2 separate regions of the Homo sapiens genome follow, and region 2 is linked to region 1. The links come from fine-mapping of genetic effects on gene expression. A gene starts in region 1. The other region holds a variant in brackets. All regions are shown on one strand. Distances are between the middles of the regions.

Region 1 (4,000 bases):
GTGCATTTGCACAGTAACAGCCAGCCAGGCTAATCCTAAGGGATTTCCAGTTAGTGGCACGTGCGTGCTCTCCCACCCCTGGTCTGGAAACCAGGAGCAAAGTGCTCAGTTACTCATTTTCCGCCTTTGCAAGCAGCTCAAGTCCCTTGGGAAAGCACAGCTCCCAAAGGGTTCTGGGAATACCGGGGCTCCTGTAGGGCCAACGGGGCTTTCTGTGAGCAAGATTTGCCTAGAGAACACAGCAGCCAGGGTGTGAGAAGCCTAGCAAGTAGTTTCTTCCTCATTGGCCTGGGGCTCTGTGGCTCTCTCTCAGCAAATAGTTAGGCATGGCCTTAATTTATTTCCCTGCCAGAGTTCCTCCTGGAGGGGGGCCAAGCTAGTAGACAGGAAGGCGGGGACTGGCAATTTAGTAGAAATCCATGCATGTAATTGCGAGGACCAGAAGAACAGGAGCAAGTGCGCAGGGAGTCTGGGGGCTCTGGGCAGGCAAGGAGGAGAACAGGGTGTGGGGGAGCAACCCTTTCTTCTGCTTCAGGTGGGAAGAATTGAGGCCGGCCAGGCCCAACAACACAGCCTTGCAAGCTCCTAATAGAAGAAATGGCTTTCCTGGCTCCACAGGGTTCCTCAAGCAGGCAGGGGACCTTCTCAGGTCATAAGATGAGCCCCACGACACAGTTCTCATTTCATCTGGGCGTGAGTGGTTTCTGCCCCTCTCTGGGCCTTAGATGCCTCAGATTTCCCAAAGCAGCCTTCGTCTGAGAGCACTGTCCCGGGAGTCAGGCACGTGAGGCTGACTCTCTGCTCTCTCACCAGGTGTGGGAGCCACACCAGGTCACTCAATTTCTTAGAGTCCCATTGGCAAAACGGATAATAGAGTCTCCTTGAAGACTGATGGGGAGGATGGAGTGACCAAGGGATGCGAAGGGTTTCTAAGTAGTGCATGGTCCATAAATGCACTCAAGAAAGAAGAGCTGTCATCTTTATCCATTCCAAGCACAGCCCATGGCTGCTTTCCAAGCTCCTTAAAAACACGCTGCAGAAGTTCCTATCCTGCCAACGCCCTCAGGCAACAGGCGCCACAGCACCTCTGCTTTCCCAAGACTTTGTCCACGCTCTCCACGCTCCATCCCGAGCTTAGTGAGGGGCAGGACTGTGTCTACTGTGTCAGTGGGAAGCTGCTTTGGAGCATGTGCCCCTTGGTGAAAACCCTGTGGATAGGACGTGATCTCATCTTCTGGGATTCTCCAGCAATGACGGGGAGTTTGTGGAAACTTGACTTGGGAGAACCTGCTTGCAGGCATACGGCAGTGGCCAGCCCCCAACCTAGAGTCAACCCTCCTTCCAGATCTTCCCAGGAGGTCCCAGTCCTCAGAATTCCCTCCAAGCCCCGCCGGGAATAAAAACCAGGCAGTAACGGGTGTGCAGAAAACCTATACATCCAACCTAACTTGGCTGAAGAAGACACCCTCCCCCCCGCCGTCTGTGCTCCGGTGTCTCGGTGACTCAGGGTGCCCACCTTCACGGCTGACCTGCTCATTCCCGGGGGCCCCTGCGGCTGTGCCGTTCCCTCAGGTCACACTGGCTTGGGTCCTTAGAGCACCCTTGGGTCCAGGTGCCCTGGGCCACCTCCCATTAGTTAGGGACCGCATCCGTGGGGACAGAAACTTCCATCTCACTGAACCTATACACAGGAGCCAGGCTGGGCTTGGAGGTCACCAGCCGCCTGGGAGTGGACCCGGAGAGGCTGAGTGCGGCCCTCCCTCTCAGACGGCAGACCCCGAACCTCCACCCAGAATCCGAGCCCGGACACGGCCAGCAGGGAGCTAGGAGATGAAGTCCAGCCCTGGCTGCCCGGCTCCTCTGGGAGGGCAGCGAACCCGCGGGAGCGCATGAGCGGCCTCTCCCGGGGGGGCGGTAGGAGCGCGTCCCCTCCAGGGCGCTTTGGGATCGGGCTGCTCCGGGCCAGTGCTCGCGCTGGGGACCTGCGACGCCTCAGCCCCTGCCCAGACTGCGCCGCCCGCCGCGGCCACACCTCCCAGTCCCTGGGAAAGTCCCCGCCGCCGGCGCGAACCCACCTTCCGGGAGCCCAGGGGCCCTGCTGGGGACTCGCCGGTGTCCCCGCCGCCTCCTCCTGCGCGGGTCCGCGCTGCCCGGCCTCAGCTCAGGGCTCCCGCCTCGCCTCCCCGAGCTCCGGTGAATTCTCGGCGCTGCTCCTTTCGGAAAGGACTTTTTTTTTCCCCCTGCGTTGCGTCAGGGCGGTTGCCTGGCGACGGCCGAGCTCTCCGCCGCGAGCCTTTCACCGCGATCCCGGCCTCGCGTTCTCGCCCCGGGTCCGAGCGCGCCCCGGGTCCTAGCGCCCTGTCGGTTCACCGGCCCGGGCAGCCCCCGCGAGTGGAGAGGAACTACATGCCTTCGCCAAACCCCAGATGAAACCAAACCCAAACATCCATTTTCTCATTAAACCCGAAACCAAGGCAGTTTCCCCCAATTGTGGCAACGTGACTGCGCCACTGTCAGAAGTTTGTCCGCATGGAGGGCGCAGGGGGACCCCACGCCCAGGGCCTCACCCACCCCCAAACGGCAGGAGTTCATAGGACCCGCGGCCACGACTGCCCGCGAGCGCCTACCGTGGGCCACGCCCCCCAACGACCCAGCAGGGCAAGTGTAGGCATCTCTGGCTGCCAGATGAGGAAACTGAGGTGCAAAGACGCGAGCGTTTGCCCCACTAACCACAGGGTGTCTGTCCCGCCAGGGGCGCGGCATCGGCCACCTCTGGCTGTCGTTAGATTCTAAGACCCAGTCCCTGCTGCATCAGAGCCCAGAGCTGCAAACCCTAAGGCACAGGCAGGACAGCAGCCCGAGCTGCCCGGACCGCAGGTCTTCAGGACCAGTCCCAGCTTCTGACGAGGGGCCCAGGCCAGACACTGGAGGCCCCAAGGCTGGTTACTGGATGGGGGTCTCTTACCCCAGACCTCATCAAGCACCTTTCCTAGATGCCCGGGGCTGGAAGCGTCTTTCAAAGGGCTCCAGTCTGCCATTCTCACGATAGCCCTGGGCGTGCGCGCAGGCGCCGCCTACATGGCCAGACGCGAAGCTGAGTGGTGGGGCTGCAAAGTGACTGGCGCAGGCTCCAGGCAGGTGCGCGGCTGGTCGGGCCTTCTGTGGGGTCTTAGCCCCTGCAGGGGCCCGAGACACTCGTGCTGCCCTCTGGTGCCCGCGTCCTTCACTGCAACTCCGCATCCAGCCCTGACCTACTCCCTTCCTTTCTGACCTTCACTGGAAGGTCCTCTGAGGGACGTCGTCTAAGGAGACATCTTGCCAGTACAGACCTAGTCATGCTAATGAGGGAACGGTCCTAAGCTAGCGGGTGTATTAACAAGCATCTTTTGGAGAGTCACAGCCTTGATCCAGATCTTCTGATTCCAGCTCCTAAACATCACTCCTTCCTTCTTCCTGCCCGCTGCCACTGTCCCTACCCAAGCCACCAGCAGCTTGCCCTACCCAGTTCTGGGACCTGCCACCCGGGTCCAAGCGTGCACGCAGTCTCCATACTGATCTCCCTTTACCCTCTCTCAGCGCCTCCCAAGCCAGTTACTCCTCCACAAACAGGGGAAACTCTTAAGAATGGAAATCCAGTCTCAGCTGCTTCTGCTTAAAGGCCTTCAACGCCCCCAGTCCTCTGAGGATTAACAGCTAGCTTGGCTGCAGGGGCCTGGCTGGCCTCTGTCCGTCTCTAGGGCCTTGTCTTGCACAGACCCTGCTCCCCAGACAACAGACCCTCTTCCAGTCCCATTGTGCACCTGCTCCTCCCGACAGGCTGCTGCAGCTCTGCCTCCTAAGGGAACCCCAGGTTACAGGTGCTGGCAGCCCCCTGCCTTATGTCCTTCATGGACCAGTTATAATTCCAAGTTTACCTGTGAGGTTATTTGATTAGTATGTGTCTCCCTCTGAGGCAGTAGGCTCCGGAAGGGCATGAACCATGTTTGCAAGCAGGAGCCTC
Region 2 (4,503 bases), 38 kb after region 1:
CCTTAATCTTGCATAATGATTTGAATAATTCAGCTCACAAAATTCCTGAGAATTTAACAACCGGCTCTAGCATACCGGCACAAGCTGGCCCCCAGTGCATCACTGACGGGGAGGCCGAGTGTCTTGAGGCCACACTGCAGATCAGGGTCCTGCCTGCAGCCAAGTGGGGACAAGTGGAGAATAACTTGCCTCCTGGGCTCTCCTGAGTCCCGAGCCTGACAGCGGAGGCCCAGGTGGGTGACCCTGCTTTGTGCTCGGTGGCAGGGGAAGGGGGGTGGGCCTGTGGGCCTGGATGGAGAACCTGTCCCCATGGCTGTCATGTCCCTACACCAGCTGCTGCCAGCCACTGTGGGGTTCGCAAGTCCCCACTCGCAAAACGGCTACTGTTTTCCACAACCATGGGATACAAGGATGTCCCCTTGGGCTCCTTCTCATCTCTACTCTCTGCTGGCCTCTTTGCACAGATTGATACCTGGGATGCTGAGCCAGGACCAGAGGGAGGTAAAGACACACCTGGGGTGCAAAACTGAAGGAGGCCCTGATGCTTGAGGTTGTTCAAGTGCAGAGAATGTTTGTGTATGTGTGAAGCACACAACCACACGTAGCATCTAAAAGGACATTTGATGTTCTGCACTTAATAGATTAAGCTGGTTCTGACCTTCTAGCCCCTGGGCTTCTGATGAGTCTCCTGGTAGCCTGTCAGCTCCTGATCTTGGATGGGAGCTTGTGTGTAGGTGGGCACTCTTCTGCAAAGTGCGTTTATGGCTTTTATCTGGTTTCCTCTGATCAGAAAGATCTGGGGGTGCTGGCACACCCAGACGACTAGTAACTCCCAAAGGGAGAGGTGCAGCTTTGTCACCTGCCCCTGTGTCAGGTGGGACGTGAGATGCTCTATTTTTTTCTGCTCCATCCTGTGCCCAAGCCTTATACAGGGTGACCCTTTTCAGAGAGGCCTTTGCCACCAGGTCAGTGTGAGCATGTGGCTGGGTGATTTCCTGCCGTGGACCAGGGATCTGTGTGCTGTCTGAAGTAAGCAAGGGTGCTCTTTCTTGGCAAGGTCTGAGGGCTGAGACTTGCAAGGAGACACCTGCTCTCTTGGTCACCAGACTGGAGGTTCCTATGTGCAGGTGTGGAGGATGGAAGAGGTCACTCTGTCCTCTTTCTTGCCTGGGCCTCACCTCTGCTGAGGCTGCTGGCTGCCCTGGGCTCGCAGTGAAAGGGGCCATCTTCCACCCTCCCCTGCTGGTCAAGTGCATCTTTCCAGGTTCCGGCACTCCACGTTGCCACCCAGACAAGTGTCCTGTGGGAACTAGCAAGTGGGAATCAAAACTACCCCCAGAGAGGCTCCTGGCCGGGAGATGAAGGGATCTACCCTGGGGCTAAAGTCTCCCCAGCCTTTCTTGGAGCTTAGGTCCTGGCTTTAGAAAGATCCCATTCACATCCAGGCACAGTGGCACACACCTGTAATCTCAGTACTTTGGGAGGCCGAGGCAGGCGGATCACTTGAGGTCAGGAGTTTGAGACTGGTCTGGCCAACATGGCGAAACTGTCTCTACTCAAAATGCAAAAATTAGCTGGGTGTGGTGGTGTGCGACTGTAATCCCAGCTACTCAGGAGGCTGAGGTAGGAGAATTGCTTGAACCCAAGGAGGCAAAGGTTGCAGTGAGCTGAGATCGCACCATTGCACTCCAGCTTGAGCAACAGAGCGAGATTCCATCTCAAAATAAAGAAAGGAAGGGAGGAAGGAAGGAAGGAAGGAAGGAAGAAAGAAAAGAAAAGAAAAGAAAAGAAAAGAAAAGAAAAGAAAAG[A/AAAAGAAAAGAAAAGAAAAG]AAAAAAAAAGAAAAGATCCCATTCACCTGCACAAAAGCCACACCCCTTTGTGGCCAAGGAAAGGGCCACAGAAGAAGAAGTAGGCCCTTCAGAAGGGGGAGAAGTAGGCGCCTTCAGAAGCTGGTTATCCGTGTGTAATGCCATCACAGGGACGTGCGTTTAAGATCTTTTATCAGTCTTCGTAGCTAAATACTTTTAGTTAATTGCAGGCGGGAGGGGCTACTAGCTCAGGCTACATGGAGCATGTGCTCAAAAACTGTCTCCAATATGGTGACTTGCTGTTTGAGGACGGTCTAAGCGACTGAGGAGTGTGCCCCCTGTTCCCACCCTTGAGATGAGGCCTGATAAGGGTGCTGGCATATTTAGTGTTGGGCACCCTGGTGCTCTCCAGCATGTGGTGTTTGGCCTAAGTGGCCCATGTGGACTTTGTTTCAAGGATTTTACGACAAGAAACACCAAAATGAGGACATCTCTGTGGCCATGTTTCAGGCAAGGGGGTAATGGATACAGAGCATATGTACACACAAACACACATGCACAGAGACACGTACAGACACATACATGCACACAGACACATAGATACAGACACATACACATAAGAATACACACAGAAACACACAGACACCCACACATATACACACATGCACAGACATGTAGAAATACCTAGACACAGAGGAACACACAAAGATACACAGGCACACATACAGGTACATCTACATGCTTATCAAAAACAACAGCAAAACCACCTACCATGACAAATACTATTGCAGCAAAACTGAACAAATAAATTCTGTGCCATAAAGTTTCCTAAACCTCATCTATTTTGTAGAAATCTAGTCACTTGAGTATCATCCTTCACAAAGTTCTTTCTATTCTTTCTACTGTACAAAGTTTTCTGTTGTCAAATAGCAAGAGATCTCTGTTTTCTACTTGGAATGGGCCTGGAGAAGGGAGACAGCACCCGCTCCCTCCACCCCTTGTCCCTGAGCACAGCATGGTGACCTGCCAAGCCAGAGGGTGACCTGGACACTCATAACTCAATGCAGGGCCAACTGTAGCCTCTGGCCGGTGTCCCTGAGTGAGGGCAAAGTTGTAATAACACTTGTTCTCTCCTTTCTCCAATTTGCTCCCAAGCTCCATTGCTTTCGTTCAGGCCCTCCCCCTTCTAGACTGGGCAGTTCCGCATCCTTGGAGCTCATTTCTCTGTCTTCAGAATCTGATGCTCCAATTCATCCCATGTGTGGCTGCCAAGGTCTTTCTAAAACTCAAATGTGGCCCTATCACCGCACAGGGTAAAGCCACCATAAACTCCTCTGTGTTTGAGAACAAGGGCCAAGTCTCCCATTGAGGCCTCCAGGGAGTGGACAGTCTGGGTCTCCTTTCTTCTCCAAGCACGCTGGGCCCATCTGTCCTGTCCCTGAGGACTCCCTGGCACACATGACACTTCAGAGCTTTTGCCAACTCCACTCCCTGCCTGAAATGCCCATCTCCTTCAGAGAGCTTCTATGTATCCTTGGAGGTCCAGTCCTAATGTCCCTGCCTCCGATAAGACCTCTCCCCATCTTCCTCTCGCCCTGCTCCTGTCCCCGCCAGGCATGACAAATCTCTTCCCACAGTGGGCCCAACAGGGAGGCAGATGGTAGAACAGGTTTTGGGCCAGGTGCCAGGTGCACGTGGCTCTTCATCCTGGTTCCCCACCGCACACCTGGAGAGCTGAGTGCTTTTCCTGAGGTCACGCAGAAGGTTACCAGCCTGGCTCTGGAGCTGTCTCTTTGCCACATCGTGGGGTGTCTTTAAGGTGACCTTGAATGTGCTTGAAGCTGTTTTATGTCCTATTTGCAGACCTAGGGGAGGACAATGCCAGGGCTTTTTGCCTTCCCAAGGTCACAGCCTGAAGACACTCAGAAAGATGTAGTTGGCTCATTTATCATTTTTTAGAAAAAAAGAAAACAACAGAATGTGCTGAATCCTTGTAACTGTTGGCCATGGCACTAGTTTCATGGAAGGTGGAAGGGCAGGTTAGGCTTCTTATGAGGGCGTTCCTGGCCTCTGGAGGGGTGTGGGTGGGCTCAGGTGAATGACTGACAGACTGGATTTACGTATGTTGAGTGTGAATCTCAGTCCACAGCTTGGTGTGCAAAAACAGAAAAGCTATCTGGTAATAGCTACATCTCTGTTGGGGAGAGGAAACTGACCTCTCAATTCAGGGTCTTCATACCTTTCTCCAGGGTGGGGTCTAAGTTCTGGGAGCCTCATGAGTCTCAGGAATTCTGGGGTGGCCTATTTGGTCTTTGTCATCAGTCCATGCAGGGGGCTGCTAGAATGTCATGTCAGCCTCTGACCCTGGCCAAGCCCCCTCTCAGAGATTCCAGGCCACATCCCAGGTTGAGGGATGCATCCTCCCACTCTGGGGCCCCCCAGGTGGGACTCTCAGGGAGGCCACTTGAGACGCGGTTGCCCAAACTGACTCAACAAGATCTCTCAGTCACGGGCTGAAAGATCTGCATCACGGGCTGAAAGCAGGAAAGTTCTTTTGTCTCTCTTTCTGCTTTCCTGTGACAATGGGTGCAGAACCATCGTGAATGGTTCAGGTGCGGGTAGGGAAAATAACAAATAGGAGGAAGAACAATCTCAGAAAGGCAGGTAGCCTGTCCCATCTGCTGACAGAGCAGTGTGTAAGCATCACTGAGCTT

The links. PIP is the estimated chance that this variant, and not a neighbour inherited with it, causes the effect.
Region 2: its variant is fine-mapped to the expression of FAM167A in lymphoblastoid cells (GEUVADIS, PIP 0.95).

What each region holds. Positions count from the first base shown.
Region 1 is chr8:11,464,551-11,468,550 of GRCh38, forward strand. FAM167A (family with sequence similarity 167 member A) reads right to left here and starts at 2,203. Exons shown (of 3, transcript NM_053279.3): 1 at 2,076-2,203. RefSeq lists a silencer at 1,911-2,120 and an enhancer at 3,366-4,000.
Region 2 is chr8:11,502,603-11,507,105 of GRCh38, forward strand. The region is part of intron 1 of BLK (BLK proto-oncogene, Src family tyrosine kinase); the gene reads left to right. Among named protein-coding and RNA genes, the nearest start is that of BLK, 10 kb to the left of the region's middle. RefSeq lists enhancers at 774-913, 4,201-4,260. The variant A/AAAAGAAAAGAAAAGAAAAG (reference allele first, on the strand shown) is at 1,810.